Regions from separate parts of the Homo sapiens genome. Here regions 2, 3 and 4 are each linked to region 1. Evidence: fine-mapped QTL for protein levels in blood plasma. A gene starts in region 1. Each other region holds a variant in brackets. All regions are shown on one strand. Distances are from middle to middle.

Region 1 (8,101 bases):
TGTGGCCAGCTGGTCACAGCCACTGAAGCCACCAGCCTTTGTGAGTGTGATATGGAAGACGAGTGCCTGCTCCTGGAAAGCAAAGGCTCCAAGAGGGTCCTTCACCACCCCCGGCCCTTGTCCTCCCAGCACGGCTTGTGTGTGGCTCAGAGGCCAGGGCAAAGCCCTCCACTGGCCTCCCTTCCACAGCTGGCTCCTGAGAGTGGCAAACATAACTTTTCAGCTCCCGAACTGTGTAATTGTTGGGACTGGCTGCTCCCTCCCATCCTGAGCCTGGCTGCCTGTACTTGGAGGAGCCCTGTGTGTGCCTCTGCCAGAAGCAGGATCAGGACCACTCCTAACAGAGGCCCCAGGTCAAAGGCCCAGGCCCAGGGCCCGCTGCCATGGAGCTCTTGGCCAGAAAACTGCAGGGCCACTGAGCCAGCGCCTAAAGCCCGTGCCCTCTTGCACAGTAGTGGCCTAGGTTCTGTGACCTTCATGGCAGAGGGCCAATTCCCTGAGGGCGGGCCCTGGGCAGCAGGAGCACACCCCTGCTTAGGCACCACCCCATCTAGGGCACAGGCACACACCATTTCCCAGCAAGCTGGCTTTGGCCACAGGCTTCTTGGGTGGGGCCCAGGCAACGAGGGTGCAAAACACCCTGGCCAAGGGTGGGGCCAAACCACAGCCACTGCCCAGAGCGGGGACTCTTAGTCCAAGAAGCACTAGAGGTAGGAGTGACCAGCAGTGCTTGGCCAGCATGGTTGGGTGAACTCTGCTGGCAGGGAGGTGAGTATTACTGGGCCCTCTGTTGTCTTGTTCTCCAAGAACAATTGGAGAAATGGAGGCAGCACATACCACAGGTCACTGTAGCTTCAGAGAAGTTTGAATCTTCTTTTGCCCCTGGGTGGGAACATCCTTCTTCCTTCTTATAAGTGTGTTCTAAGCCTCCTTCTTTCCTCCTCCCTCCCACCCTGTGCTCTGTCCCATGCTTGGCTGGGGAGGCATGGACGCACACCTCCTGACCCAGCTAAGCAGGCCCCAGGTGAAACTAGGAGAGCTACGGAGATCAGGATTCCAGGGAATCTTTTGAAAGAGAAGTCGACGAGCACGAAGGAGGGCTAGGAGGGCTTGCTGGAGGAAGGTGAGATGTGGCCAGGGAGGTAGGGGCAGTCAGGGATGGCCACCAAGGATGCCTGGCCAAGCAAAGTCATGGGAAAGGTTGGAGGGCAGAAGGAAGAAGGCCCGAGCCAGACCTGAGGATGCCAGAGAGGCCCAGGTCAGCTCTGTTCAGCACTGAGGCTTCAGGGCCTTGGGTGAGCTTGCTGAGGAGCTGGAGAGGGGACAGTTGAGGAGCAGGCACAGCTGGTCCAGCAGCCTTTGTTCCAAGACAGTGGGAGGTGGTCAGGGGTCAGTTCCAAAGGCACACAGGGACCTCGACTTTCTGCCAGTCTGCCTGGCATGATGCTGCTCAGCATTGGTCCGGAGTTCCAGCCCTAGGTTACGGCTGAGCAAAGGCCAGGCCTGTGTGCGCTGGAGCCGCAGCATCCCTTTTCCACTGAGAGCCTCAGTTTCCTCATCTGGAAGCAGGGACACAGTTGGCCAACACATACGCTTCCCAAAGTTGTCAAGAGACCAAGTGAATGTTTTTTGTAAACTGGGAAGCCCCAGCAGAGATGCGCCAGCCGGGTTATTACCGCTGTGCTGGTTGCCATTATTTTCCAGGCCTGTGTTTCTCTGCCCAGCTAGCAACAAGGCAGGGGGAGGCTCCCAGCTAATCCAGACTTGAATCTCAGCTGTGGGTGGGAGCACCCTGTCTGGAGGCTCCACAGACATCTGTGTAGGTGGGGAGCAGGGAAGATGGGGAGGGGGTGGGGGGGGGAGATGGGGCCAGCAGAGATCTTCACCCAGATTTTTGATTCATAGAGCAAAAAGCCTTCTGTCTTATTTTTTCATTCCTGAAAAGAAAGCTCTTTTCCTCCAAACACAGTCTTCCAAGCAGCACCCCCACCCCCAGCCCCATAGCTTGTCAGTAATTAGCCCCTAATGAGGACCAGGTGTCCTACCGACTTGAGGAGAAGGAAAAACAAGGGACAGCCGGGCGCGGTGGCTCACACCTGTAATCCCAGCACTTTGGGAGGCTGAGGCGGGCAGATCACGAGGTCAGGAGTTCAAGACCAGCCTGGTCAACATGGTGAAACCCCATCTCTACTAAAAATACAAAAATTAGCCAGGCATGGTGGTGCACACCTGCAATCCCAGCTACTCAGGAGGCTGAGGCAGGAGAATCGCTTGAACCCGGGAGGCAGAGGTTGCAGTGAGCCGAGATCGCGCCATTACACTCCAGCCTGGGCAACAGAGCGAGACTCTGTCTCAAAAAAAAAAAAAAAAAAAACAAGGGACAAATTGTGGAATCAATGCCTTTACCGCCACTGAGGCCAGCCTAGCACAGCCTCCATCCCAGGCCTCCTAGGGCACCTGGATGGAAGCTCTTAGGTTTGCCAAAATCCCTACAGAACAGCAGCAATTGGTTTCTTAGTCAACTACAGCAGGCATTTATTGTACACCTACTGTATGCAGCAGCCTCTGGAGGAGAAAGTTCAAGCTTTACAACAAGGGAGGTGATATGTGTAAAGCTGTATGTAAACCATGAATCACAGGGAATGTGCAGGATGACAGAGACGGAGGAGAAAGGATAAGCATTTATTGAGCACCTACCGTATGCCAGGCCCTGGGCTAGGGACTTGAGGTACATTAAAGCATTTAATCCTCATTAACCCAATTTTACAAATGAGGAAACTGCCACAGAGAGGTGAGGGGACTTGTTCAAGGTTTGACAACCAAGTAAGGGAGCTGGGATTTGAACCCAGGTCTCTCTGGTTTCAAGACCAATACTCATAACCCCCACATGGACCAGGCACCATCACACCTGAGCACTGCACTTAGGGTCAAAGACCTGGCCCCACATCTCAGCAGCTATGTAGACTAGCTCCAGTCCCTTAATCTCTCTCAGCCTCAGTTTCTTCATCTGCAAAACAGGTCTCAGTTTCGTTGCAAAGTATGAAGTGCTGGGCTGTTACTGGTCAAAGGGAAGAGCTGGGAAGAGGGTGCAAGGTGGGGTTGGGCTGGAGATGGGCTGGAGCAGATAGATGGAGGGACCTGAATGGAGGAAGTAAACCAAGGCCCGGTAACATTGGGACTGGACAGAGAACACGCAGATCCTCTAGGCACCGGAAGCTAAGTAACATTGCCCTTTCTCCTCCTGTTTGGGACTAGGCTGATGTTGCTGCCTGGAAGGGAGCCAGCAGAAGGGCCCCAGCCTGAAGCTGTTAGGTAGAAGCCAAATCCAGGGCCAGATTTCCAGGAGGCAGCCTCGGGAAGTTGAAACACCCGGATTCAGGGGTCAGGAGGCCTGGGCTTCTGGCACCAAACGGCCAGGGACCTACTTTCCACCTGGAGTCTTGTAAGAGCCACTTTCAGCTTGAGCTGCACTTTCGTCCTCCATGAAATGGGGGAGGGGATGCTCCTCACCCACCTTGCAAGGTTATTTTGAGGCAAATGTCATGGCGGGACTGAGAATTCTTCTGCCCTGCGAGGAAATCCAGACATCTCTCCCTTACAGACAGGGAGACTGAGGTGAGGCCCTTCCAGGCAGAGAAGGTCACTGTTGCAGCCATGGGCAGTGCCCCACAGGACCTCGGGTGGTGCCTCTGGAGTCTGGAGAAGTTCCTAGGGGACCTCCGAGGCAAAGCAGCCCAAAAGCCGCCTGTGAGGGTGGCTGGTGTCTGTCCTTCCTCCTAAGGCTGGAGTGTGCCTGTGGAGGGGTCTCCTGAACTCCCGCAAAGGCAGAAAGGAGGGAAGTAGGGGCTGGGACAGTTCATGCCTCCTCCCTGAGGGGGTCTCCCGGGCTCGGCTCTTGGGGCCAGAGTTCAGGGTGTCTGGGCCTCTCTATGACTTTGTTCTAAGTCTTTAGGGTGGGGCTGGGGTCTGGCCCAGCTGCAAGGGCCCCCTCACCCCTGCCCCAGAGAGGAACAGCCCCGCACGGGCCCTTTAAGAAGGTTGAGGGTGGGGGCAGGTGGGGGAGTCCAAGCCTGAAACCCGAGCGGGCGCGCGGGTCTGCGCCTGCCCCGCCCCCGGAGTTAAGTGCGCGGACACCCGGAGCCGGCCCGCGCCCAGGAGCAGAGCCGCGCTCGCTCCACTCAGCTCCCAGCTCCCAGGACTCCGCTGGCTCCTCGCAAGTCCTGCCGCCCAGCCCGCCGGGATGCAGTCCGGGCCGCGGCCCCCACTTCCAGCCCCCGGCCTGGCCTTGGCTTTGACCCTGACTATGTTGGCCAGACTTGCATCCGCGGGTGAGTGAGGGGCCTGAGACCCCGACCCAGCCTGGCGGAACTAGAGGGGTTCCTCCGGGAGGGAAAAGGGACAGGAGGAGCCAGAAGTGGCCCCCAGATCGGGAGTCAAGCAGGCTGCGCTTCTCCCACCACTAGCTGGGGTCGCCAGGGGTTCAATCCTGGGGCGGACACGGGACCCCGCTATCTCAGGTTATGGGGTTTCTAGCTAGCCAAGGCTGTCCAGTTAGGGGCGGGAGCAGGCGCCCCAGGCATGGATTGCCTAGGGCGTGGCTTTGCCCGTTTGGATTGTCTGAGACACCAGTGGGGCCACCCCAATGCTGGCCGAGCTTTGTTTGCCAGGCAAGTTTGGGGTGAGTATGTTGGGGTCCAAAGGGACCCGGCGACAGTGAGAAGTGGGTCCTCCAGCTTCAGATGCCCTGGGCCAGGAATGGGGAGTGCTACAAGGTGGGAAACGAGGAATGAGCCACCCTGCCCTCCCCTGTGAGGAGCACCCCCACACCCCTCCAGCTGCCCCCCAGCTCTGCCCCTTCTTTCCTCCCCTTGCTTCCTTGCAGATCCGTCTATCTGCCACCTCCCCTCTTCATTCTCTCCTCTCCCTCCTCCTGTTGGTGACAGGCAGGACCCCCCACCCACTACCCACTCTCAGCCTCCTAGAGGGAGAGCTGGTGCCCCTCAGCGGGGCTTGTCCTACAGATAGCTCTGGACCACCCCCTGCCACACCTCCTCATCCCAGCACTGATGCCTGACCCAGCAGAGGCTGAATGGAAGTTCGCTTTCCGAGAAGTGCTGGGATATATCCCCTCTCTGTCCCGATGCCAGAAACCCCAACATGACAGCATTCTTCCTTCAGCGAAGGCAGCTCTAGTTATGCCATAAGAACTGTGGCCTTAGGGCCCATCCATCATCACTACCCACGTGTGATTCAGTGCTTCAGCTACACCTTCGAGATCATTCCCAAGAGCAACATGGAGCAAAGGCAGGGCCTGAGCCTCCTTCACAAGGGCCCAGGCCACACCCTTCTCTCCTTCAGATGGAGAAGCCAGCTCTAAAAGAGGGCATCACATGGTTCCCAGAAGGGAAGTGAGTCAAGGGAGGACCCCCGCGGGGTGAATCAGGGCTGGATCTCCAGGCTCCCTGTTCCTGCAGGGACCAGATCCCCTAAGATCTCAGGGCCTGAGGGATGGGCTGGGCCGCCAGGGAGATGGGAAGGGAGCATCCAAGGTGACCAGGGTGGTCAGCTCATTCAGGCCCCAGCCTCCAGCCAAGGAGGGATTCCAGTACCCCCACCTCCTTGGGCTTCAACTGAGAGCCATTCTCAAATACCTTCTTAGCCCTGACAGCATGCAGGCATGGTGCTAGGCTCGCAGGGGCACGGGAAATTGAGAGGCTGAACTGAGACTCATTCAGGAGGCAGAAAGGCAAATTAAATCTCAAACAGCAAAAATCTGGATGAAAAGTACAGAGGGGAGAAAAGCAGGGGCAAGCTGGGGCAGGACACAGGGTGGGCCTCAAACCAAGCCTTGGTGGATGGGAAGGGAGTCAGTCCTCCAGGCAGGGGCGCTGACTCAGAGGCACCAAGGTGGGCGTAAGCAGAGGGGTGTTGAGACAGGAAGGCCAGCAGCCTGGCTGGGAGGCGTATTTCGAGCACAGGCCAGGGAGAACCACTGGGCTGGGGCACAGAAGCCTTAAATGGCAAAATGAAGCCCACGGCCTTATGCCCTGTTGGCAAAGGAGATGCCACAAGGGTTTTAGGGCAAGAGAGCAGCATGGTGCTGTGGGGTTTTATAAAGTTACACCATCCCCTGCCTTTAGGAGGACTCGGAAATGAGGAGGGGCTGTGAGAGCTCCCGTCCAGCAACCCATCTCTGTCACCACTCCTGGTCCAGCTGCCTGCCCTGATTTCTGCAGTAGGGGCAGCCCCTGCCTGAGGAAGGCGTCCCTCCCACCCCTCCTGGATGCCCCTGGCTGCAAAGGCCCTCGTCCTCCCGTATCCGAATGAGGCGTGCTGGGAGGCTCTCCCTCTACTCATCAACATTTGAGGCATCCAGGTCAGGGGGCCTGGCAGTCAGCACCCTAGAGGCCATCTGGGCCAATCTTCCACTTGTATAGAGAGGGAAACTGAGGCCCCAGAGAGGAAGAAAAGTACTCTGAGTTCCACCAAGAACCCCAGCAGCCCAGGAAGAGCCCCCAGCCCTGCTTCGAGGGTGCTCCCAGCCTGCGTCGGGGCCTAGGCTTGGGCCACTGAGACAGTGTGGGTGACAGATGCGGTGTCCAGCTCCTTCTGAGCTGTATGGGAGGCCCCAGCAGAGAGCCAAGCATTGGGGGAGATTGGATTTGAGCTGATACTGGAAGGACAGGCAGAGAAGGAAGGAGGTGACATTCTAGTCGGGGGGTCACAGTGAGCACAGGGCAGGCAGGGGTGGTGGCTCCCACACCTCTTCCCTGGCATCACTGACTGAAAGGCAGAATGTGAGGGGTTGAAGTGGGACCCAGGTTGGGGAGTACCTGGCAGGGAGGGCTTGTGTGTTACCTGGGTGGGGACTCAGAACTGATGGGGGTATCTTAGTGAGCAGGGCCACAGGGACACCAGGTACAAGAAATTGAAGCAGGGTAGATCCTGCTGCCTCTGAGGATGGCTTGGGGGGACCGATGGTGCTCGGGACAGGCACTGAGCCTTGTGTGCACCTTGTGTGCCACCCCAGGCCTCCGGAGCAGGGCAGGGCCCAGGGGCCAGAGCCCTTGGCCCAGCCCACCCGGACTCGAGAAAAACTGTTCTAGAGCAAGTGTAACGGAGCCTCCCTCCCTACGCCTGCCCGCCCGGGCAGGACAAGAAGGGCCTTTTAGTGCTGCCCGCCTGGGGGGCCTGGGGTGGGCCATGCCAGGTGGGCCAGGCGGCTGTCGATGACGGCAGGAGGGGAGTAGGGTGCGTGTGGAGCTCTCAGAGGAAGTGTATAGGCTGTGTCTGGGAACTGGGCGTGCTGCCCAGGAGGGGCGGGCAGGGGAGGGGGAGTTGGAAATAGCCTTGACGTCCGCACTTACTGGCGCACACAGATGTGGGCACACACACTTGCACACGGCCACTCTCACAGACCTGGACGAGGTGGCTACTGCCTCTGTCTCCAAGTCCCCTACCTTAAAGATCTGGGCCAGTGGCACTTGCGGGGAAGGAAGTGAGCACAGGATGGGGACAGGGGTGCCACCTGAGGTGTGTCTTCTATTCAAGGCCAGGGGCAAATGAACAAGGGGCCTGTGGGCATGGGACTGAGGCCTGGTCCCTCCCTGGTCCCTCTGCTCCTTCACTGCCTTTCCCCCTGACTCCCGCCCCATCCAGCTCTCCTCTTGCCTCCAACATGCCCTCCGCCCCAGCATATGTCAGTTCAATAGAGCCTTCCAGAGTTAAGGCTCTTCCTCCAGCTGCAGGCTTAGGGCAGGTTTCAGATTTACTGTATTACCATTCCTACTGAGTTTGTATGAGGAATTTTTGAATGAACTGAATTTGTATGAACAATTTTGTACTTGGCTCCTCCGTGGGGCAAGGGTTCCTAGCTCTCTCCGCTTCTCAGGAGGGTCCGTAACTCCAAACAGGAGAGGACAGAGCTGTCTTATTGCTGTGCTCTTACCTTCAGGGACACCCCATAGTGTGCACTAACCATGTTGTTAGTCCTGCAGCCCCACAGCAGCCCTGCAGGTCAGGAAACAGTCACTGCAGCCTCAACCTCCCAGGCTCAAGCGATCTCCCCACCTCAGCCTCCTGAGTAGCTGGGACTTCAAGC
Region 2 (8,101 bases), 52 kb after region 1:
AGGAGCAGGAGAGGCAGCAGAAGGGCAGCTTGGAGGCTGCTGCAATAGTCCAGGTAAGCCTAGTGGTTTGGACCCAGGTGGTGAGAGCATTACATTTGGGGTCTCATTTGATGGACTAACAAGGCTGTGCTTGTGGATGGGATGTGGAATGAGAGAAAGAGAGGAGCCAGGCATGAGCCCAAGGTGGGCCTGAGGTTCAGGGGGAGAGGAATTGTCTTTTCCAGGCTGAGAAACACAGGGAAAAGCTCGTGTGGCTGAATGACTATAGATACCAAGCGCCAGCGCCACCACAGGGACATACACGCAGGTAGGTACAGGTGCACACACTGACAGGCACCTGCAACCACACAGGTGGGTCCACACACTCCAGGTACCAGATGCAGGCAGAGACTCCATCACCCCACCTCTGCCTGCCCCACCTGACACCCCAGCCCAGCCCCAGGGCCAGAGCCCTTTTTGGCTCAGCACTCACAAGCCCCCTTCCCCGAGTCTCGACATTTTCCTGCCAGCTCTCACTGCCCCCATATTGTCTCCTGGAGTAAGGAGGCTCCTGAGTTCTTCTCAGAGACCAGAGTCCTGCTCCTGCCCCCAGCTCGCTGCCCATGGCCTCACCTGTCTAGCCCCCTCCTCCACAGCCAGAACCTGACCCCATGCCCCAGCCTCGGGCCTTCCAGAAAATTATCTCTCCACAAATATTTGCTCAGCACTCTCTGTGGGCCAAGCCCTCTGACCTTTCACCCACTGACTTGAAGGAACACAGCCACCTCCACCCAATACCCACCACCTGCCCCTCACGGCCACCTGCCCCTCTCCCTCCCCATTCCCTTCGATTCCCAGCACCCTTGTGTTCACACTGCAGCAGGACAGTGGCCCCCGCCACGCCTAGCCCCCCAGCCTTCAAAAGGCAGCCTGGTGCGGTGGGAAGGGCACGGCTCCAAGTGCAGGCAGACCTCAGCCCAGGCCTGCCATGGGGCAGGTGCGCAATCTCGCAGTGACTCAATGCCTCTGAGCCACCGTCTGCTGGAAAATGTTGACAATAGGAGTTCCTACCTTCCAAACAGTCGTGGTACCAGCACAGAGGACTGAAAAAATGGTAGCTCTTGTGCACTCAGGCCCACCCAACCTGGCTGACCTGTGTGGCTTTGAGGATGCAGCCGGCCTGAGGCAGTGACAGCATCCACACTCGTGAACTCGTGGCCATGTATAATCGTGGTAACCATCGCTTGAGTGATGCTGGAGGAAACTGAGACTGAATGATGACCTTACATGAGGTCACCCAGTGAATCTGTTTATGGGAGGCATTGGGTATGAGACTGGGGCTCTTAACCTTGGGCTGTGCTATCCTGTATATGTTGGTATATGTAACTGTTAGTGGCCCAGCGGACCCCTCCTGCCCTGGATGACAAGTACAATGACAGCCAAGGACCCCAAGGAATCTGCTCCCCACGGAGGCAGTGTGGCAACACGGGGCAAGGCTAAAGGTCTGGGGGTGGTTGGGGGCCTGGTTCCAGGCCCAGCTCTGCCATCTACCCACTGTGTGGCTTTAAAGGGCTTGCCCAGTCAGTTTTCCAACCTATGAAGTGGGGGTACCAATATTCTTAGCACTCTCTCTCCCCAGGGCTGCTCCAGCTCTACTCAGGCTGATGACCCCACCTGCTCCTCAGTGGCGCTGGCTGTGCAGGCACTGCCCAGATGATGTGTTCTGCTCACGTCACCCTCCTAACAGCCATCTGGAACTCCCCTCTCAGTGGAGAAACAGAAGCATGAAGCAGTTAAGAAACATCCCTACAGCAAGGCCACACTGGTCAGGATCTGCACTTGCCTCTGGGCGGTAGAGGGAAAGGAATGGGGTTGGGGTGGGGGCTGCTGCTATCTGGGGGCAGCAGGGCTATATGGAGGAGCCTCATACTCCCTTGCTCCAACCCCAGAGCACTCCTGCCAAATGGCAGCAAGGGGTGCGGGTCAGCCCAGAAGAGGCTCCAGGTGCCTCCAGGCTTCCGCCAGCCTGTAACACCCGGCCCTGGCACTGGCCATCTGCCTCTCAGCACAGGTAGCCCAGGCCTGGGTACTGTTTCGCACCAGCCTTGGCTACTCCAGCACCCCCCTCGCTGGACCCCATTTCCTGGTGTGTAAAATGACAGTAATAATCTCTTGCACATGGGGTGGTTGTAAAATAACGACCATCCAGTGCCCATCACAGTGCTGCCTGCACTGGGAGATAGTAGAATCCCCAGAGGCTGGGAGATTCCGAAGCAGTGGGACTCATACCCCCATCCCAGGTAGAACCCCAAGAAAGGAGCCAGATCCCAGAAGAAACAGGGTGGCATGGGGTGTCTAAGCGGCACCCCAGAGCTCCCTGTGCTTGACTGCGAAGTGGGAGCTGTGGAATGATGACCACAGGCCCCAGAGGGGGCCACAGGCCACAGAAAGGACCTCTATCAGCCCCTTAGTACAGGGCAAATGGAAGGAGCCCTGAGTGCCCAAGAGCAGAGAAGAGCCAGACACACAGAGACTCAGGATGGGCATCAAGGGAGCATGCAGGGGAAAGGCAGGAGGCAGGGCAAGATGATCGGAGGGCCCAATGCTGACCAGGACCATGGCGGGCATCGCAGGCCCAATGGCAGCATCCAGGTCCAGGAGTTCTGCAAGAAGCAACCCGTAACAATGTGTGCTGCTGGGTGGGCAGGGCGGGGAGGAGGGAAGAGAGCAGAGCACCAACAGAAAGGGGCAAAATCAAAATTAATACCGTTTAATTAAGTATCTACAAGACAGGACACAAGTCATAAACTGAACCCTTTAATGTGGAATGCAGGTAAATATTAATATGTATGATAGAGTGTGGGATTCAGCCTTTAAAATGCAAAGCTCCCTAAGGTCTTCAAATGTGCCATCCCCAAAAGTTCTACACATCCCTGGGGAAAGAAAGGGTCCCCAAATTGATGTGAGATTACACTTCTACCATGTGGGGAATGGGGGAGGAAAACAGAAATTCAGGTCAGATATAAAAAAAAATTAAGTTATGTTCCTCACTCATGTTCCTTTGTAAACGGAGCTCCTGAGTCACTGCAGCTGTCACCGTGCAGTGCCATCTTCAGACCCTTCATCCCTCAGGGCTGGGGGGACTCACCCTACCCTCTCACCCTTCACATTTCAGCCGTTGGGTTCACCAGCCTCCTATCCCTTCACTCATCTAGAGGGGAAATCTGCCTCCCCTTCTTCCTTTGGCCCTAAATGAGTTCATCAGTGTGACTCTAAGGAGTGATGGCAGGGAGCTGGGTTTGAGTCCAGCCCCGCCAGAGATTCCCTGTGTGAACCTAGGCAGGTCCCATCTTCCCTCTGGCCAAGTCTCAGTCTCTTTGTTGCGAAAGGGAATAAATGCTGCCTACTGGGGCTGCTGAGCAGATCCAGGCCACAGCTATGCGACACTACTTCTTAAACAGACTGCACTGCACTGGGGTTTGACCAACAAAACAAAACCAAACCAAAAGAAAAAAAAAGTTTGTGTTCAACTATGTTGAACAGAGCTGGGTTTCACAATCAGCCCTTCTGAGCTATGTCGGGGGGTGGTGAGGTTTGATTTTTCCCCATGGTCTTCCTACCAGGGCTCACCGTCTTCTCCTGCCCCAGCCAGTGGAGAGGGGAACCAGAGCCGAACTAGTGGGGAAGCAGGTTAGGGTGGGTGGGGGAGCTGAGCAGGCTTGGCTCCTGGAGGCCTGAGTCAGCGGGCAGGCGGGCAGGGCGGGCTGGGTCCTCACATGCTTGGGGAGGAGATGGTGCAGGAATGTTCCTCCCGCCCAGGCCTAGGCCCTGCCCACCGCATCCTGGCTC[C/T]GGCTCCCGTGGCCACTGCAGCTCAGCTCTAGCTTGAGAAGGGAGCTGCCTGGAGCTCTGCTGGATCGGTTCAGCCAGGGGCCTTCAGAGGCAGCCTGGCCCAGAGGATTGGCCCAGGGGAGGGCAGGGCCAGGAAACAGAGTCTGCCCAGAGCCAGGCTCTGGCCCCAGAGTATCCCCTGCCCTGCTGGGTGATAAGGCCAGCCACCACTGCTCCCTGGGCCTCAGGCGCCCATCTGTTCAATAAGGAGCTGAACTTGGTGGTATCCAGTCATCCCAATTGCATCCCTAGACCTCAGGCTGTGTGCCTGTATGTGGTGCTTGTGACTGGCTCTACTCCCCCTTGGAGACACCCCCTCCAGGGGTGGTGTCTCCAAGCAAAGCTCTCCTTAATCTCTGATGAGGTGGGGACCCTGGGAGGTCATGCAGGTGCAGTCCAGGCACAGAGATGCTTATGACACCTTTGCTCTGTGCAAGCATGGCTTTGTGGCGGTGTGTGCCCGAGTATGTGTCACTGTGTGAGGCTATGACCATGTGCATAGGACTGTGGTGTGGCTGTGTCTGACAAAGTAGCCACTGGTGCTTTGAATGGATGGCAAGGCATGTGTGGCTGTGGCTGTGAATGTGTAATAGCGTGTGGCAGTATGACTGTGTGAGCATACAGGCATGCTTATGTGGCGTATGTGCCTGTGGGCAGGTGTGTGACTGCGTGTGCTTGTTGTGAGACTGAGCGATTACATTCGTGAGTCTGTGAGTGTGTAGACACGTGGAAGACATATGGCTCTGTCATCTGGGAGGGGTGGTGCAGAGCAGGGGCCGATGGGGCCACCTGCCTCTCCCAGGCCTGGCTCTGCTCCAGCCAGTGGTGCAGCCACGGCACAGTGGTTCATAGCCCTCCTGTGTCCAGCGGGTGAAGAGATGCAGGATCTGAGGTCTGCTTCCATCCCCAGCCCCCATCTGTGGCCACAAAGCGGATTCCTTTTCCTGTACTGGGCCAAGACTGGTGACCAGGGGATCCCCTACCCCGGGTGCTGGTAGCTGTCCAGGGCAGAAAGAGAAGCCTTGTTTTCCACCCCCTCAGAGCAAAGTAAGGGAGGAAACGAGGCAGCTGGGTCCAGCCGAGTCGGGAACATCTGCCTGGCATGTGACGAGGCAGGAATCGGCCATCACCAGGATGCCCCCAACACTGGTCCCCCAATCTCCTGCTGAAAGGGGCTTAGCTACCCCAGAACGGCCCCAAGTTCCCCCAATACCCCCACCCCCATAGAGGCAGAAAGAAAAGAGAGAGGAGGGCCAGGACAGCCTCCCTCCCTGCCACACACACACCTGCCCCAGCCCAGAGACCTCAGGATACCAGGAGCAGGCCTGGCATTATCCCAAGACTCCACTTCCTGATGCTTCTCCTGGATCCAAGTCCCTCCTGAGAAAAGTATCAGACTGATGGCCTCACCCTGAGGATGGAAGGCCTGGGAGGTGGTCCCCTCTCAAGGAAGGCACACAGAGGACAACACTGTTCCCAGAGCAGGAAGCATGAGCAGGGGACTTTCCAGGCACCATGGGTTAGGAGGAGCATTCCCACCAGCCCTGCCTCGGCCTGGCCCAGCCCCCACTGCTCAGAGCCCCTTCTGCAGATGGCTACATGGATGGCAGAGCTGAGAAGAGGTTAAGGGCGGGAAGTTCCTCGGATGGGTTAGAAAATGGGGCAGGGTGGAGAGAGGGGAAAATTCCTCAGAAAGTCCCAAATCTGACCTAATGTTGACCAAGGGCCAGGGGGACCCATTCCAGAAGTTCCTCTGAGGACGCTATGCCCTGAACAGGGAGTCCTGCCCGCCCCTTCCCCCACCGCACCTGCTGGCCCTTCTCCATCTTCCTGCACAAGCTCCCTGGTCCCTGGTCTAGCCAACCTTCCCTGACGGCCTTGACCCTGGAAGCCCTCCCTCCACCAAGTCCCCATTGCCTCCAAAGGAGAGCCAAGTCTCAACCAGTACCCTCCTCTCATCTGTGGATGAACAGATCCAAGAGCAAGGTCCGCTCATCCTGATCAGGGCACCCCCAACAGCCAGCGTCCTCTTCAGTTTCCAATGTGGGAGCCTCCGCAGGGCTGGGTACCCAGGACGGTTTGGGGAAGAGACACAGCTTCTGAGTCCCCCACTTCCCTCCCCTGGACTAGGGCTTTTCAAGGGCAAGGCCAGGGCATGGCTCCTTGGGGAGAGGAGCCACCATCTATTAATTGTCCTAGGGCACAGCGTCCTGTCCCTTCCTCATACAACCCTCAGCCCCAGATCACAAGGCAGTACAGCCAGTCCCCTGGGCAGCACTCCACCTGTTTTAGAGACAAGAGTGCGTTCTAGGGAGGGATGGATCCACCCAGGGGTCCACAGCCGCCTCTAGCTCCTCCTGCCTGCTGGCACCTTCCACCAGCATAGCCCTCCCCTGAACTTTTGAGGTTCTGTGGAAAATTTGTGCCCACCACGACCTCAGAATCTCATCCAATGGCTCTCAGGAGCAATTAGGGCTCTATCCTTCTCCTGCCCTCCGCCTTTCTGGGATCCAAACAGAAAAAGTCATGCTTGTGTTATCTTAATTGTAAAAGGTTTATCAAGAAAAAAGATTCAAGGAGCAGCATCCAGGAGGAGACCATGACCCCCCCGGGGGCAAGGGGGGCAGTGGTGACACATGTCAGCACCCCACAGCAAGCTGCTGGACCACACCCTGACCTGGGTGGGGAGGAGGCAGAAACCCCTCGGGGATGTAAACATAGGTCAGAGACAGCACAACCTGACGGGGAGCAGGGGCCCACATTCCAGCGAGGCAGACAGAGGGCAGGTGGGCATGGAATCCCTCGCATGGCTGGGCAAGCAGGCCCCTGTCTTTTTCCTCTTAGGTTTCCCATTGTGCAACAGGAAGGATCTTGGGAAGACAGTGCCACAGAGCCCAAGGACCCTGAGATCCTGGGTTTGGACCTGCTTCGAGTGTGGGGAGTTATTGCTGGTGAACTCAAATATACAGTCACTTTTGAGAGTCTTCTCCAGGAAGGTGTCACCAGGGATCTGGGGCCCAGGGCTTATACCTCAGCACCTTGAGTCCGAGGAGGGGAGGATGCTGCAATGGTCCCCTGCCCGAGATAAGCTGAGGGCCCAAAAGTGGAGGGGAGTCAGAGGCCTACAGGAGGGAGATGGCCTGTAGCCCCCTCCTGCAGGGGACAGGGTGATGTACGGACAGCCAGCAACATGGGAGCAAGGGAGATCCCTTCCTACCACACAGGCCAGAATCCCCATGGAAAGCGTACCTAACTTGCTTGGAAAGTAAGGGAGAGAAGAGGGAGATGTTTGCATGCCTCCATAACTTTGCCCATGCTGTTCCTCTCCCCTGAAAGTCCTTCTCCCCCATGTACTGTCTGGCAGGCCCTTGTCATTCTTCAAAACACTGCCCAAATGTTGCCTACTCTATGGAGTCTTCCCTGACCAGTGGAATGCTGTGGTCCCTTCTATGAGCTTCCAGAAATCCCTCACTTAAACATCAGTCATACTGCATTGACTCTGTCTGTGTCTGACCCCGACCTTCACTGAGGACTCCTGAAGAGCAGGCATGTCACAGCCCTGGGTGCCCAGCATCCGACCCAAGGGTGCAGCAGGCCTCGGTGTCTGCTGAATGGATAAGGCAGCAGTGGCCAGGTGAGCAAGCAAAATAGGCTCTAGGGGAGGCTGAGACCCTGGCCTGACCTTCACTGACTGACCGGCAGCCCAGGCCTTGGCCTCGAGGGCTCCTGACTCTATTCTCACCCCTGCTGTGCCCCACTTCTAAGGAGTGGGGAATTTCCCAGGGGCACCCATGACTCCTTGAAAGCTCCTTCTCCCAGGAGGCAGGACAGGCCGCTTATCTCCCCCACCGCTGACCCCTCCCCCAGTCACTGCTGGTATAGGGAGGTCGGGAAAGTGGGGTACACTGCAGTGACCAGGCCCAGGGGAAGGAGGGGGCCCAGGCACACGCGGTCAGAGGTTGTCATACATGCGCAGGGTCTTCTCCAGCTGCTGGCCCACCCGCTGGTAGAAGAGGATCTGCTGGCGCAAGTAGTTCTGCATCATGTGCTTGAAGTCGAGCTCACGGCGCTGGTGGAAGTGGTTCATCTCGGCCTGCAGGGCGAAACCCACCACGCGGCAGCGCCTGCGAATGCCGTCTGCCTCGTCCTGCACCATGCGGCCCTCGTCACTCATGCGTTGGCTCTCCTTCACCTTGGCGAAGGCGCCTGGCATAGGCAGAGCAGAGGACAGCGT
Region 3 (8,101 bases), 1.3 Mb after region 1:
TCACCTCCACCAGCCCCTCATTTCCCAGCAGATGTGAGACCTCCTTGGTGTGCATGTCAGCCCGTGATAGGTCAGTCTCAGGACGTTTCCCCCAGCATGGGGCCTGTCAGAGGAGCTCCCCCTCCCCAGCCACCACAAGAGCCCAGTCACTGGGAGCGCCCCTGCACCCTGGAAGGCATCCGAGGGATCCAAGCCCATTCCTCAGCTTGAGGAAATGGCAGCCCCTGCAGAGGGCCCTGACTGGCCCTGTGAGTGTGGAGGTGGGGGCGTCCTAGCCCTGATACATCCTTTCCTGAACTCCACCCCAATCATGGGTATAAACACAGGCAGAACATCAATGAAGTGAGAGGAGAGTTGTCTGCCTTGGCAGCCAGCACCAGGGAAGATGGAACTGTGGCTTGTCTACCTGTCTGGCCTTCTGTTGTTCTCTGTCTCAGTCTCATTCTGTTTCCCTGTTGGTCTCTGTTTCTATTCTCTCTCTCTCTGTCTCTCCTTGTTCCTATTTCTCTCTCTGGCTTGACCTCTTATGCTCACTTACACAAAACAAGCATGCATATATACAACAGGTGGGCACATGGGACCACACGTATGACCTGCTCACCCATACACACGTACAAACATGCACATCTGTGCACACATGCATCCACACAGAATCCTCCCTCCTCAGATCCTGTATGTATATTCAGAGAAGGGGGTGGTGGTGAAGCTCTCTTTCCATGTATCCACAGGCTCAGGGAGAACCCACAGTTAATTTCCAGGCTGTTTCTGCCTCCCTGTCACTGGCAACTGGGAGCTTGGAGGAATAGGCTGGGATCCCCACTGATATCTGGGACTCTGGTGGGGATCTCTGGGCCATCATAACCTGCCAGTGAAGAGCATGAGAGGGGAGGGGGAGTCTCCGGAGGTGAGCAGAAGGGACGAGATAGGAAGATGAGATGTTGAGTTAGCAGTGCACTGGCCTGGAGGGCTCTCTGGCTCCTTCCCCTCCTGATGCTCTTCCTGGTGGTCCTGCTGAGATGCCCTATGACCCACCTGAGAGCTGGGGACCAGGGACGACTGGACCACAGGAGGCCCCAGAGGGAGGCGCCTGCAGGGAGGGAAGCCTCCTCAGTCATTTGCCCCACCCACAGAAAGCTGGAGGCTGGACGTCCCTAGGGTGTGTGGCCATGAGGAGAGAGCCTTTATTCCTGTCCTTTCAGGACAATGGGCCAGATGAGGCCCCACCAGGTACTTGGGTTTCCTGGGTGGGTCGGGGCTTTCCTGGAATGCTCAACCTTCCTGGTGTCCCAGGGTTGAGGTAACTGCATGGGAAGAGGGTAGGCAGGAAGCCCTTACGGTCTGTAAGGACCTGTCCTGCCCTGGAGTCTGGGTTCAGGTGGTCATCAGAGCCTGCACGCCTCCACCACTCTCAGCATGTGGGCCTGCTCCCTGTTCAGAGCAACCCCCTTACTGAGCACCTGTGTGGTGCAGGCTGTGCTGGGAGGAGGCTTGTGAAGAGCAGGTGAGCTAGGACTGGGCACCAGAGAAGGAGGAGCCCCTTTCGCTGCTGGGGCAGGAGCTAGAGCCCCCACGGGCATGTTTTGGTGTGGGGACAGATTCAACAGGAGCCCAGGGATCTTTCTGAAATGTGACACTTGCCTCCACCCTCCTTGCCAGAAAGGGACATTGCTCAGCCACCTGGCTCAGCTTCAATAAGCAAGTAGTAATAGTGGTGAACAAAAGCCAAATGCGTAAGTCACGCACCTGCCCGGGACTGTTCTGAAACTTTGTGTGAATTGTCTTGGTTAGTTTTCTCACCAGCCCTTTGAGGTTGATACTATTACTATTGTCTCCATTTCATAGTTCAAAGAACTGAGGCTGAGAAAGAGTAAGTAGTTTACCAAAATTTCACAACAAAAAGATGCATCTAATCTTTGTCCTCAAGAAACAGGGGTTCTACTTTTACTTTTTTTTTTTTTTTTTGAGATAGGATCTTGTTCTGTTGCCTAGGCTGGAGTGCGGTGGCACGATCTTGACTCACTGCAACCTCTGCCTCCCGAGTTCGAGTGATTCTCTTGCCTCAGCCTCTTGAGTAGCTGGGATTACACCACGCCTGGTTAATTTTTTTTTTTTTTTAATTTTTAGTAGATACGGGGTTTCACCATGTTGACCAGGCTTGTCTCAAACTCCTGACCTCAAGTCATCCACCTGCTTCAGCCTCCCAGAATGCTGGGATTACATGTGTGAGCCACTGTGCCCGGCCCAAGCTCCTGCTCTCTTTGCTGGGTTCGCGGTTAATACAAGTGATACACACAGCAGAGAGAAGCAGTCAGGTGGGCCACTCTGGCAAAATGGCAAAGATCAGGTCTGGGACAGAGTCTGCCCCAGTGACCAGGGTTCCCTACACAGAGTCCATTAGCACCCGAGTCTTGGACCTCAGAGGAAGATGATGGGATCACTTGTTCCAAGACACCCTGAGGCTCTGAGACAGGGAGGTCACCTGTCAATCTGTCCTACTTGGGACCGAGGTGGGCTGAGAGGCCCTCTGCTTGGGCTGCAGGGCCCCTGCAGGGGTTGAGGATCAGCTTTCTCCTCTCATTGGTTCCTGCCAGAACCATCTTAGGGAGCAGCTGCTGTGGGGGCTGCTCTCCCACAGCAGGGAACCCACATCCTGCCCCATTACAGCAAAGTGAGCATCCGGTGGGGGAAGGACCCCCACGGGGGGCCTGAAGCTGATGAAAGTTGAGTCAGGGTGACTCAGTGGAAGGCCTCTTCCCACTGCTGTCTCCAAGTGGAATACTGTGGTCAGACCAAAGGAAGAACTTCCCAACCTCTGGTCCCACATCTGGAATGCATGCCAAAAAGGGGTCTCTGAGAGAACATGGCAGTTTGGCAGTTCTCAGGCTCTGTCATGCTACATACTGACCTCAGAAAGACCCCGGGAGGCAGACTGCAGATGGGGAAACTGAGGAAAGGGACAGGACCTGTACCAGAGCTGGGACTGTAGCTGGACCTTGAGTCTGCTCATCATGGGGGCACCTGCCCAAGGAGAGGGCAGCACCCCACTGCAATGCCCCCTATGTTTCCCCAGAGCCCCTCTCCTCCCATCTGCTCCTCAGAGGCCTTGTCTCGAGGTAGGAGTGGAGTGAGGGGGTGGGGGTTTCCCTGAGCAAAGAATAGTTCTCCTGTAGGATGCTGTTTTAAGAAACACACAAATAGACAAGCCACCCAGCCAGTCAGACAAGTTTGGCTTTCCAAACCTGTCCCTGGGGTGGCTGTTGTTGCCTTTTTATTTATTTATTTATTTATTTATTTATTTATTATTTATTTATTTATGTATTTATTGAGTAAAGGTTCATATAACACAAATTTTGCCATTTCAAAATGCACATTGCAGTGGTTTTGAGTATATTCATAATGCTCTATGACACCTACCTCTAGCTAACTCTGGAACATTCCATCACCCCCAAGAAACCTCGTGCCTGTTAGCAGTTACTTCCCCTTTCCTTGTCCCCCAACTAATGTACTTTCTGTCTCTATGCATTTGTCTCTTCTGGACATTTTTTAAAAAATTAAATTAAATAATTTATTCAGAGATGAGGTCGCGCTATGTTTTCCAGGCTGGATTCAAACTCCTGGGCTCAAGTAATCCTCCTGCCTGGGCCTCCCAAATAGTTGGGACTACAGGCGTGAGCCACTGCATCCAGCTTCTAGGCATTTCATATAAATGGAATTGTACATGTCACCTTTTGTGTCTGACTTCTTTCACTTAGCATACTGTTTTCAGGGGTTATCATGTGGTAGCCTGAACCAGGACGCCCCATCTTCTCACTGCTGAATGAGAGCTCATTGTGTGGCTAGGCCATGTTGCTTATCTGTGCCTCAGTTGATGGACATGGACATTGTTCCCACTTTTCGGCTGTTATAATAATATCCAGAATAACGCTGTATGAATATTTGTGTACAAGTTTTTGTGTGATCAGATGTTTTCAACTCTTTGGAACATCTATTTACCTGGGAGTGGGACTGCAGAATCCCATGGTAACTCTGTGTTCAACGTTTTGGGCAACTGACAAACTGCTTTCCACAGAGGTGATACCATTTTACATCCCCGCCATCAGAGTGTGAGGGCTCTAATCTTGCCACAGTCTCACCAACACTTGTTATTTTCTCTGCCTTTATTCTTTCAACACACACACACACACACACACACACACACACAGAGAGAGAGAGAGAGAGAGACATTGAGACAGGGTCTTGCTCTGTCACCCAGGCTGGAATACAGTGGTGCAATTTTGGCTCACTGCAATCTCCGTCTCCTGGTCTCAAGCAATCCTCCCACATCAGCCTCCCGCGCAGCTGGGACTGCAGGTGCATGCCACCACACCCAGATAATTTTGTGTATCTTTTGTGGAGATGAGGTTTCACCACATTACCGAGGCTGGTCTCGAACTCCTGAACTCAAGAGATCTGTTGGCCTTGGCCTCCCAAAGTGCTGAGATTTCAGACATGAGTCACTGTGCCTGGCCTTCAACACATATTTTGTTGAGCCCCTGCTTGGTGTCAGGCCTGTGCTGGGGTAGGGGATGCAGGGGTCCAGGCTGCTCTTGCAGAGCCAAAGGGACATAGATGTGACCCAGTGGTGGCTGGTGCTGAGTGGAGGGAAGGAGGAGGTGAAGTGATGGGAGTGACCTGCATGGACAGTCAGGGCAGGCTTCAGGGAGGCAGCGTTTGTGCCCTGGGAAGGTCTTGGCTGTTACTGTCCAATCCCAGCCTCTGTCCCTTCCCAAGTCCCCAGGATGAGTGGTAGTCAAGGTGCTGGGTGCCTCAGTGTTATAATGTGAAAAGTCTCAGCCTGGCCTGAAACTCACCCATTAGAGCCCTCACCTGCAGATTCTATGCCCACAGCCCAGGCCAGA[T/G]GAGGAAACTGTGGCTCAGAGAAGGGAATGACTTCCCAAAGGTCATCCCAAAAGGTAGTGGCAGAGGGAGACCAGATCCCTGATCTACAGATGCCCAGCCTGGGGTCCTTTTAGCTCTGATGGGGTGAGGCCTGGGGCAGCATGAGGCTGGGAGCAGGGAAGATGGGGGAGGGCAGGAGGCTGAGAGAGCCCAGGTGAGAGAGGGCCAAGCTTGAAAGGTTTTCCCAGGCTGGGGGAGAGGCCCTGGTCAGGATGTGTATGGGTAAGGGGTGAGATACAGAGGTCCCTGGGGCGGGCCCAGACCTGTTTCTCCTTTGCCCAGTTTCAGTTCTGTTTTGCTTGTCCCCTTCTGTTTTGCGTTCAGAGTGGGTTGGGGTGGTGGTGGGGTGACTCTTAGCCCCCATCTTGATCCCCATGGTGGGGGATGAGGAGATGGGCTTAACTCCAGACACCACTTTCAGTCCCCCTTTCTACCCCCACCCAGGGTCCCCCAGTCTAAGGGCGGATGCGGGAGGCCTGGCTGGGTCCGTCCTCACAAGGAGGGGCAAGCTGGGCAGAGCCTGGCTGGCCTCCCCTGCTGCCATACCTTGGAGCCCACAGCCTCCAGTGGGTAGTGACTGGCCCCAAATCTAGACATAGGTAATGTTTGCTTAGTGAGCTCATGTGCTATGGGACTAAGTTGAAATGCTCTGCCCCTTACTCATACACCCTTATTGACTCACAGGTCCCCAAGGTGAGTCACGCCCACATCAGGTATTGTGGGTGTATGAGACATACACCCACTGCAAACTGGGATGCAGTTTCCAGTCCCCCTGCCAGCATGCTTAGGGCACCAGGAAGGGCAGTGGGTGCTGATGGGCCCCAGATTTACCAAAGATGACTCCAGTTGGAGGCCTTGGACTGCTGTGGGCTTGTCAGGGGCCTTTGTGGCCCTGGGAGGAGGTGTCTGGGGCTGCTCCAATGTCTTTGGGGTCTCTCAGGTTGGGGTGGATCCTTTGGGAGTGCTGGGCACTGGCAGAGACTCAGGCCGCAGGGAGGGGACTTGCTTTCCCTCTGGCTCCCTCAGGAGGCCTCAGCTGCAGTGCTGGGTGCTGGCTGTCCTCAAACCCATGTCCTCCAGCCCCCTGACGTCTTCTCATTTCCTCATCTCAGGTTTCAGCCCACTCAGGCTGACGTTGCCTTCTGATCTCGTTTTTCAGCAGCCCCCAGGTCTCCGTGGCTGCTGTGCAGAAACGCGAGTGGTTGGGGGAAGTCCACATGATGCTGGCCTTGAAGAGCCTCCTGCCAGCCAGGCCTCAGGAGGGCTCACTTCCCCATTGCAGAACTCCTGCGGAGACCCAGGGGCAATTTCTGGTCTTTAGCACAGGGCCTCTGAGGGGCTGGCTTTTCCTAGGGGCTGCCCTGGTGCTGTGGCACCGTGGGGTGGGGGATTTCGGCAACGCCAGGGGCTCGACATGGCTGAAACTTCTTTGGACAGCTCAGCTACCCCAGGTAGAAGCCTCTGTCCCTCCCGGAGCCAGGCCTGTCCCAGCTTCGAAGTCAGATGTTGGGACATGCTGTATGCCTTTGGGACGAGTAGCCCCGTGGGCTCAGAGCTCTGACAGTGAACCCAGATGGGGTTGCTGTGAGGCACTGGGCGGGTCTAAACAAACAAGGTGCTGTGTGAGTGCATAGGTGCGAACAGGCTGCTCCAAGGGACTCTTGAATTGTCTTTGCGGACAAGTGGGAGTTAGCTGGAAAAGAAGGAGCTGCGTGGTCAGAGGCGTGGAGGCAGGCAGTGGAATAACCCATGTGGAGAACTGCAAGCATTTCCACATGACTGACTGGAGTGTGAGGGGGTGTAGGAGACCGGAGGGCAGGCGGTGGGCAGGGGGCTGGAGAAGGACCCTGAGGGCTCAGCCAAGGAGCAGGACTTTTCCTGAAGCAGCAGAGGCAGAGAGCCAGGCCCCTCCTGAGCCCTCTCACTTCTGTGCAGGGACACCTCCCAGTGAAGTAGGCCTGGGCCTCAGAGGCACCCCGACCCTGGCTGCTGACTCAGCTCTGCCTCTGTGAGGGCCAGTGGGGGGCTGCCCACATGAGCCACGGAGCCATGGCATGGCCTGGGGCTGGCTCTCCTGGGCTGCCCTCCACCCAAGGTCTTGAGGTTCTGCCATTCCCTCTTCAAGGGGTCTGACCATGCAGCCCTAGGTGGGGACGGACCCTGTAGCCTGCTCACTGGTGCCTGGGGTGCCACTGCCAGTCCTGCTCTGGCGCTGATGGGGAGGCAGAGGCAGCCGCCAGAGAGAAGATCCCAGGTGGGGAGAATGTGGGCAAGAGGCCATGCTCCCTCCTGCAGCCTTCATGAAGGCTCAGAGTGTTCTGGAAGTGTTTGGGGGCTGGCCTCATCTCCTCGGCTAGCTCCAACGCCTCCCGGCTCGGCCCCCACATATCACGCTCAAGTGGACCGATCCTGACTGAGGCAGAAAGTAGAACTGGCCCCTCACCATGCGCTCCAGCCCTACTGCTGAAGGAGGCAGGATGGCACAGAGGTGAGGGCGTGAATTCTGCATCACTCAGACTTGGGGCTAGATCCTGGGTCTGGTGGGGAGCACACTGGGCTGGCAAGGCCCGTCGTGCTTTACTAGCTACCTTTGACCCAGTAATCCCACTTCCAGGAGTCTGTCTTACAGAGACACCCGAACGAATATGACAGATGCACACACACCAAGCTGCATACTTGTGATGGCAGAAGATCAAAAACATTAATAGCCATCAGCTTGGGACTGATATATCCCAATGGTATGTCCCCATGATGGAATTCAAGACAGCTCTAAAAAGAATGTGAGACTGGGTGCGGTGGCTCACGCCTGTAATCCCAGCGCTTTGGGAGGCTGAGGTGGGCAGATTACTTGAGGTCAGGAGTTGAAGACCAGCCTGGCCAACATGGCAAAACCCTGTCTCTACTAAAAATACAAAAATTATCCAGGCGTGGTGGTGTGCACCAGGTACTCGGGAGGCTGAGGCACGAGAATTGCTTGAACCTGGGAGGCGGAGGTTGCAGTGAGCTGAGATCACACCACTGCACTCCAGCCTGGGCAACAAAGCGAGACCCTGTCTCGAAAAAAAAATCTGAAAGTTTTCTGTGTATGAAAGTGCAAAAAAGCTCTGGGATTTCTGTTAAGTAAGAAAGCAAGTAAAAGTCAGTGAAGAGTAGAGAAAACACC
Region 4 (8,101 bases), 160 kb before region 1:
AATAGTCACATGAATATAATTTTCTCAAGAACTCAAAAAAAGTTTAGGAAAGCATATTAAACTTACATTATTAGCCAAAGGGTTCAAGGAGAAAAGTTTGCCATGGTCAGAACTATGAAAACTTAAATCACTAAAAAAACCTGTATTTGTCTACAACTGTCCTATATATACAGGTCTAATTTGAATCCCACCTCCCCCCAACTTTTTTTTTTTTTTTTTTTTTTTTTTTAAGAGACCGGGTGCCTCATTCTGTTGCCCAGGCTGGAATATAGTGATACGATCGTGACTCACTGCAGCCTTGATGTCTGGAGTGCAAGATCTTCCTGCCTCAGCCTCCCACCACCCCCAGTAGCTGGGACTACAGGTGTACTCCACCATGCCTGGCTAATTTTTTTTTTTTTGTAGAGATGAAGTCTTGCTATGTTGCCCAGGCTGGTCTCAAACTCCTGGGCTCAAGAGATCCTCTCACCTCAGTCTCCCAAAGTGCTGTATATATTTCAAATATAAACTGGTTATCACAGTCTCATGAAGTTATTAAATACACTTTTGTTTTTAAGTTCCCCTGCTCTAACTCCATAAAACACTTTATCCCGCAGCTGGTCCCTCTTTCTGTCCTTCCTCTTTCTCACTTTCTTATTAGACCTCAGCAACAGCTCATTTAAACAATCTAAGAACTATTTCTATAGAAACAAAGTCTAAAGTTCTAAGTAAAAGCCATAGTATAAAGGTATCAAGTTAGAAGGAAAATAACCTCCACTGTGATAGTCTACCATTGCAAAGAGTGGGTGAGCATTAAAAAGCCACTTACTTCTGCAGTTTAACATGCCAGTCATATAAACTGTCATTTATGAGTTCCACTGAATAAATCCCTGTTAAGATATAGAGCATGTTAGCTACTCTTCATTTCATCATATAACTATTACTATGGTATAAATGTATACACTAAATAGCCAACGAAAGCTAGAAATTTTGCTCTTAAAACATGGAACAACTAAGCTATATAGTAAATATTACACTACTGCAGCTGAGTATCTTATGCCCTTAACAGATAATTACAGCCATCAACTGAGAAGATTCTTTAATGAGTTGAAAAACTGCTTACCGTTTAGTCTGACTGAAAAAAAGATTATGCAAAATCATATGTACTTAAGACTTTTCTTCCATGAACACACATTTCTACAAAGATGGAATCCTTCTACGTATGTTGTTTTATAATCTCTCTTCAACTTTCAGGGACATCTTTCCAAGTTAGTATACATAAACCTATTCACAATCTTTTTAATGACTCTGTGGTAGTTTATTTTATGGATATGCTTTAACAAATTCCACCCAGTATCTGTTTTTTTTTTTCTATATAAACAATGCTGAAACAAATGATTATTTAACATTTAAAAATAAAACCAGTATTCAAATGTTTGTACTTTATTAGGTTTCTACAGATAAACTTTTAGACTTCTTACACAAAAAACCGTAAGGACACCCACAATTCTAACAACTCAGAAACAAGTTTGGCTTATCCTGCACACTACAAAGCAAGGATTTTTTCCTTGTTTTTATTCTTTAAGCAAATTCTAATTAATTTTGATTTGCTCACGCTAAGAATTCCTGAATCGGTCATAATGCTAGAATTGAATCGGTCATAACCCTTTTTTTTTTTTTTTTTTTTTTTTGACAGAGTCTCACTCTTGCTGCCCAGGCTGGAGTGCGGTGGTGCAATCTTGGCTCACTACAGCCTCTGCCTCCTGGGTTCAGGTGATTCTCCTGCCTCAGACCACTGAGTAGCTCGGATCACCAGGCGTGCGCCACCACACCCGGCTAATTTTTTATTTTTAGTAGAGATGGGGCTTCGCTCGCCATGTTGGCCAGGCTGGTCTTGAACTCTTGACCTCAGGTGAGCTGACCACCTTGGCCTCCCAAAGTGCAGGGATTATAAGTGTGAGCCACCGCACCCAACCAATGCTATCTTTTCAAATTAAAGTTTGGCTCATTATTTAATACTATTAGAATCTCCATAACAATATGAGAATTTTACCTCTAGTTAGAGAGGTTCCATAACATTCAAGTCATATTGAGTAAGAATACTCGTCAAACAAGGAAATGAAAACTTTAAAAACTTATATATTTTAAAGGTAATAACATAACTATCTTTACAATAAAAGCTGATTATCTTGCTTTCAAAAATGGGGGGGAATCATAAAAATCAACTTGGCAATTATTCTCTGTAAAATGAAATGTTTTACTCTTATTTACTTTCCAAGCAATATCGCTCATGCTTTCCCCAGAAGATAAAAATCATGTAAGAGTTCACTGTTTATCAAGAAGAGGACAAAATTCCAATGGACCTATAAAAACATTTTTTAAAAATCCAAAAGACAAGTAAACTCATCCTATTTTACTCCTACATCTTTTGGAACTTGATTGCATTTGAGTTTCACATTCCTGAAATAAAGCTAGTAAACATTTCCATTTCTGTCCAGTTTTAAGAAATGACATTTATAATCTGACAATAGAAAAGAGCAGAAGAATCATAAAGAGAGCAGGGATCCAGAGATCCTTACCTGTTTTATAACTCTGTGATCTGTATATGTCCCTGAGCTCTTTCATAAGTCTATCTGAAGCTTGCACTGACCCAGACACTGCACCCTGAAACACAAAAGCCACTGTTTACCAGGGTCTGCTGAGCTAAGATTTAAGATATTTCAACCTGATCTAAAAGATTACAGCAAAAATGGATCACCACTCAACATTTTTTTTTTTTTTTTTTGGAGATGGAGTCTAGCCCTGTTACCCAGGCTGGAGTGCAGTGGCGCAATCTCAGTTCACTGCAACCTCCGCCTCCCTGCTCAAGAGATTCTCCTGCCTCAGCCTCCCAAGTAGCTGAGACTACAGGTGCGCACCACCACGCCCAGCTAAATTTTGTATTTTTTTTTTTGGTAGAGACGGGATTTCACCATGTTGGCCAGGATGGTCTCAATCTCTTGACCTCGTGGTCTGCCTGCCTCGGCCTCCCAAAGTGCTGGGATTACAGGCATGAGCCACTGTGCCCAACCTCAACATTTTAAGAAGTAAAAAAAAGCCCAATTAAATGAAGCATTATGAAGTTTCAAGAGGATATTAAAACTAGGCACAAGTCTAGTTCATTTCCTATTTCTTCTCATGTGAAAAAGTCTAGCCAACATGTCCAGACCACCATGGATTCCACAATAACAAAGAATTCAGTATGAGTCTATTCCAAACCCCAGCAATTTTTGAAAATACTAGAAGACACTCAAGGTGACACATTATTTACTAAAATAGAGTTCCATTCATAAGACTACAAACAAGAATATTACACAGATGGTCTAGTTCGCACATTAAGACACTGAGAAACATCTGCCTACATGCGACTGGTTTCAGTTTTTCAGTGCAGGGACATCTCTAAAGATGAAAACACATCAATATCTTATCATAAGACTAAATACAAACGGAACTATTTTTTGGTCACGTGAAATTAAAGATTTTAAACATTGCACTATACTTTGAAGGGGGGAAAAATCAAGTTTCCTAGCTCATTTCATATCTACAAAATATGAGAAGTTTTTCCTATCTCTAAAATATGAAGCATACCTATTTCACACGGTGGCTATGAAGACTAAATGTGAAGATATGTGAAGTATAAAGTACTTGGCATAGTATCCATCATGCAAAAGTGTTCAGTAACTTATAGTTGTTTTGACTATAACTCAAACTGGAATCGATCACAAGACATAAAGTACAGTCATCATTAATTCAAATGACAAACTTTGTTTTTTAAGTAATCAAGATATGGGGGCTTGACTAAATTTCTTTGCTCTACTAAAAATTATAAATTAGATTAATATATAAATTAGACTGAAGGAGGGAGAGTAATCTACCTGTTTTCAACATTTGGCATCTACTTACCTAACAATTCATTCCCTGTTTTGGGGAACCTGTGCCCAAGACAAAGTAACTGCTACTCAGATTTCACGGAGTTGGTCAATAGCTCTAACACAAGGCAAAAAGTAGTAAGTGTTCAGACAATCATTTGATGTTTCCCTACTCTGAGCATTTTATATATATACACACATCATTTTCATTTATTTTTGATAGCAATCATCCAAAAGGTATGTACTGTCTAGCCATATTTTAGAGCTGAGGAAAGTGAAACCATAAATTGTGTGTTTGTCACCAGACTCAGTGTTCTTTTCACATCCTGCTGCTTCACGTAAAAGAGATATTAAGTTGTGGCCGGACACAGTGGCTCACACCTGTAATCCCAGCACTTCGGGAGGCCAAGGCAGGTGGATCACTTGAAGTCGGGAGTTCAAGACCAGCCTGGCCAACATGGTGAAACCCTGTCTCTACTAAAAATACAAAAATTAGCCAGGTGTGGTGGTGTACACCTATAATCCCAGCTGCACAGGAGGGTGAGGCAGGAGAACTGCTTGAACCTGGGAGGTGGAAGCTGCAGTGAGCTGAGATCATGCCACCACACTCCAGCCCGGGAGACAGAGCGTAACTTCATCCAAAAAAAAAAAAAAAAGGATGTTAAGTCAAAAGAGAAAAATTACTTTTGGTTGGGTCAGAGCAGGACAGACCAAAGTCAGCTTCACGAAGGAGAAAGAACTTGAATTGTATTTTGTCGGAGAGGATGAATTTGAATATACAGATCCCATGAGAGGAAGGTAAGCAGAGAAAACAGCATAAACAGGCCGGGAAGGGGCAAATACAGGGATCAGCAGGTGGTTCCAGGATATGA[A/G]GAGCAGATGAACAGGGTAAAAAGTGGCTATCTATAGATAAGAAACGTAATCTACAGCAACAAAACATATGACTAAGGCTAGGCACGGTGGCTCATGCCTGTAATCCCAGTAGTTTCGGAGGCCAAGATGGGAGGATGACTTGAACTCAGGTGTTCAAGACCAGCCTGGGCAACAGAGAGTCCTCATCTCTACTAAAAATAAAAAAAACTAGCCTGGCATGGTGGCATGTGCCTATAGTCCAAGCTACTTGGGAGGCTGAGGCAGCAGGATTACTGGAGCCTGAGAGATCAAGGCTACTACACTGAACTATGATTGTGCCACTGCACTCTAGCCTAGGCGACAGAGCAAGACCCTGTTTTAAAACACACATGACTGAATCCACCACTAAGGCAGAAATGGAGGAAGAGGGCAGCTGAGATGGGCATGTTAATGAATTGCCTGGTATTAACTACAATTATTTAACCACAAAAGTCCAGGTTCTAGATATCTACACACACTTACATTTAAATGGTCTTGCCTTTGAGTCTTCCTAATTTTCTCTAATATTGCCAAATTTTCTTTTTCAATTCCTTCATCCTCTGACTTTTTCCCACTAATAGGCTCTTCTTCCTTCATCTCATAGTGATCTAAGTCTTCTATATCCTACAAAGAGACGAAAAATGTTAGCTTATTCAACCTATTTTTCTTCAGCAGTTTCTTATGCCAAAATAACATTAAATTATTCTTGACTCAAATGAGGAACAAGAAACAAAATGTAACTATCCTATAGGGAGAGAGAAAAAGCCCCCACATTCCATTCAAGAGGCTCCCACCTTTTATATCCTATATTTTATTTAAAATCTAGACTCTGGGTAAAGCAGATTTAAAAGCTTTACAAAATCATAACTATTACCAAATAAGCCATCTTCTAAATCTCCTATTAAGAGGAACCTTTAAAACAGTTTAGCAGCAGGTGTCAAGAACCTTAAGTGTTCCTAGTTTGTTCCAGAAACTCAACTTCTAGAATTGTATTCTAAGAAACTAGTTTAAACTATAAACACTAATTTAGGCATAAGGATACCTATTTCAACCTTGCAGCCACAAAAATAAACACAAAATCTGCATGTGCAAAATAGCAAAATATTAAGAGGCCACTGAAATACTAACATAGCCTAATTTCTCCTGTAACGAAAAACTTTAAAATGAAAAACAATACAAAAAAGAATAGAAAGAATTTCAGTTACGCTGAAATAAGCACAGAAAAAGAAAGACCAGAAGAACTTACATTGAAATGTTAATTTCAGTTAATCTTAGTTATCTCTGGAGGCATTTAATGCTTTCCCCTAATTTCCAAGTTTTATGTAGTAAGCATCTATTGACGTTTATAACTAGAAAAAAAGTTAGAAAAAGAATTTTATCTCAGGTCCTCAGGAGGCTGAGATAGGAAGATCATGTGGGCCCAGGAGTTTGAGGCTGCAGTGAGCTATGATCATGCTACTGTACTCCAGCCTGGGTGACAGAGCAAGACTCTATCTCAAAAAAAAAAAAAAAAAAAAAGGAAAAGAAAACAAAGAATTTGAATACCCCTAGACCAATATCTTTATTCACATCATTCTGCTCCCTTCTTTCCCGTACTATCTGTTCTTACACATATATAAATCTATGCAGAATTTAAATCCTAACTTTTTGCAATTACCTTATTTCTCTACTTCAATTGCCAAAATCTCTAAAGGAGTAGTTTATACGCATCTCGGCTTTTTTTTTTTCCCCAAGCAGGCTAATTCACTGATTTCTAGACCAGGTTAATCACTACCTTCTATCCATTCAATAGGCCTCCTTTTTGGGTTTATTTTTTTATTTTTTGAGATGGAGTCTCGCTCCGTTGCCCCGGCTGGAGTACAGTGACAAGATCTCGGCTCACTGCAGCCTTCACCTCCCCGGCCTCCTTTTTGGAATGCCATCTCTTCAAGCCCTATAACGTTCTGTTCTCACTCAAACTCTGCCCATGACTCCATACTTCATTGAGCTCCCTTCTCCCTGTGTGCACCTTTCAGCCCTGATCTTCCATCCTACATGTTTTCCTCACAATTCTCACAAATGCCTTTAGCCTGTATTTCCTCCTATACCTTCAACCTCAGTCATGTTCCCATCCACGAAATTTCTTTTTCTGAGTATTAATCAGCACATCCCAAACAGAATTCAACATTATCTTTCTCAAACAATATCCTCAGCACACTATTCCCTGCTTAAGGCCTTCCTATCAATAATTATGGGGAAAAGCAAGACAGATCAGCCTGTTACTGTGTCTGTGTAGAAAGAAGTAGACATAGGAGACTCCATTTTGTTCTGTACTAAGAAAAATTCTTCTGCCTTGAGATTCTGTTAATCTTTGACCTTACCCCCAACCCCATGCTCTCTGAAACATGTGCTGTGTCAAACTCAGGGTTAAATGGATTAAGGGCTGTGCAAGATGTGCTTTGTTAAACAAATGCTTGAAGGCAGCATGCTCCTTAAGAGTCATCACCACTTCCTAATCTCAAGTACCCAGGGACACAAACACTGCGGAAGGCCGCAGGGACCTCTGCCTAGGAAAGCCAGGTATTGTCTAAGGTATCTCCCCATGTGATAGTCTGAAATATGGCCTCGTGGGAAGGGAAAGACCTGACCGTCCCCCAGCCTGACACCCGTAAAGGGTCTGTGCTGAGGAAGATTAGTATAAGAGGAAGGCATGCCTCTTGCAGTTGAGACAAGAGGAAGGCATCTGCCTCCTGCCCGTCCCTGGGCAATGGAATGTCTCGGTATAAAACCCGATTGTACGTTCCATCTACTGAGATAGGGAAAAACCGCCTTAGGGCTGGAGGTGGGACATGCGGGCAGCAATACTGCTTTGTAAAGCATTGAGATGTTTATGTGCATGCATATCTAAAAGCACAGCACTTGATTCTTTACCTTGTCTATGATGCAAAGACCTTTGTTCACGTGTTTGTCTGCTGACCCTCTCCCCACTATTGTCTTGTGACCCTGACACATCCCCCTCTCGGAGAAACACCTACAAATGATCAATAAATACTAAGGGAACTCAGAGGCTGGCGGGATCCTCCATATGCTGAACGCTGGTTTCCTGGGTCCCCTTATTTCTTTCTCTATACTTTGTCTCTGTGTCTTTTTCTTTTCCAAGTCTCTCGTTCCACCTAACGAGAAACACCCACAGGTGTGGAGGGGCAACCCACCCCTTCAAATAATCACACCAAATAGAAACACACCTGTCTCGAATTCAAGACTTTTAACCATCTGCCTTTTCTAGCCAATCTTGTTTTTTCATGACTTCCACCCATCAACCCTCCTCAAAAGAAAAGTATCCA

Direction of the effects. Positions count from the first base shown, and alleles are read on the strand shown. Strength reflects both the effect of a copy and how common the allele is.
With allele C in place of T in region 2, the plasma level of the protein whose gene starts at base 4,148 in region 1 is higher (weak association).
As copies of T replace G in region 3, the plasma level of the protein whose gene starts at base 4,148 in region 1 goes up (moderate association).
With allele G in place of A in region 4, the plasma level of the protein whose gene starts at base 4,148 in region 1 is lower (moderate association).

Evidence for each region. PIP is the chance, under the fine-mapping model, that this variant and not a neighbour inherited with it causes the effect. Protein levels are from antibody-based Olink assays in UK Biobank. Linkage for the fine-mapping came from a reference panel and not from the study's own genotypes, which makes the PIPs less certain.
Region 2: its variant is fine-mapped to the plasma level of the CSPG4 protein (UK Biobank, PIP above 0.99).
Region 3: its variant is fine-mapped to the plasma level of the CSPG4 protein (UK Biobank, PIP above 0.99).
Region 4: its variant is fine-mapped to the plasma level of the CSPG4 protein (UK Biobank, PIP above 0.99).

Annotation. Positions count from the first base shown.
Region 1 is chr15:75,708,895-75,716,995 of GRCh38, reverse strand. It overlaps CSPG4 (chondroitin sulfate proteoglycan 4), which reads left to right and starts at 4,148. Exons shown (of 10, transcript NM_001897.5): 1 at 4,148-4,328. The coding sequence starts at 4,241.
Region 2 is chr15:75,656,934-75,665,034 of GRCh38, reverse strand. It overlaps SNX33 (sorting nexin 33), which reads right to left. Exons shown (of 2, transcript NM_153271.2): 2 at 2,734-8,073. The coding sequence ends at 7,820. Among named protein-coding and RNA genes, the nearest start is that of SNX33, 13 kb to the right of the region's middle. RefSeq lists enhancers at 2,876-3,449, 4,598-5,171, 7,144-7,643, 7,644-8,101. The variant C/T (reference allele first, on the strand shown) is at 3,829.
Region 3 is chr15:74,394,652-74,402,752 of GRCh38, reverse strand. LINC02255 (long intergenic non-protein coding RNA 2255) reads right to left here. Exons shown (of 4, transcript NR_146881.1): 4 at 7,997-8,101. Among named protein-coding and RNA genes, the nearest start is that of MIR6881, 13 kb to the left of the region's middle. RefSeq lists enhancers at 32-81, 811-1,311, 2,592-2,821, 2,580-3,080, 4,953-5,002 and 7 more. The variant T/G (reference allele first, on the strand shown) is at 4,899.
Region 4 is chr15:75,870,729-75,878,829 of GRCh38, reverse strand. It overlaps UBE2Q2 (ubiquitin conjugating enzyme E2 Q2), which reads right to left. Exons shown (of 13, transcript NM_173469.4): 5 at 5,262-5,402; 6 at 2,559-2,643; 7 at 809-869. Among named protein-coding and RNA genes, the nearest start is that of FBXO22, 29 kb to the left of the region's middle. RefSeq lists an enhancer at 6,543-7,492. The variant A/G (reference allele first, on the strand shown) is at 4,760.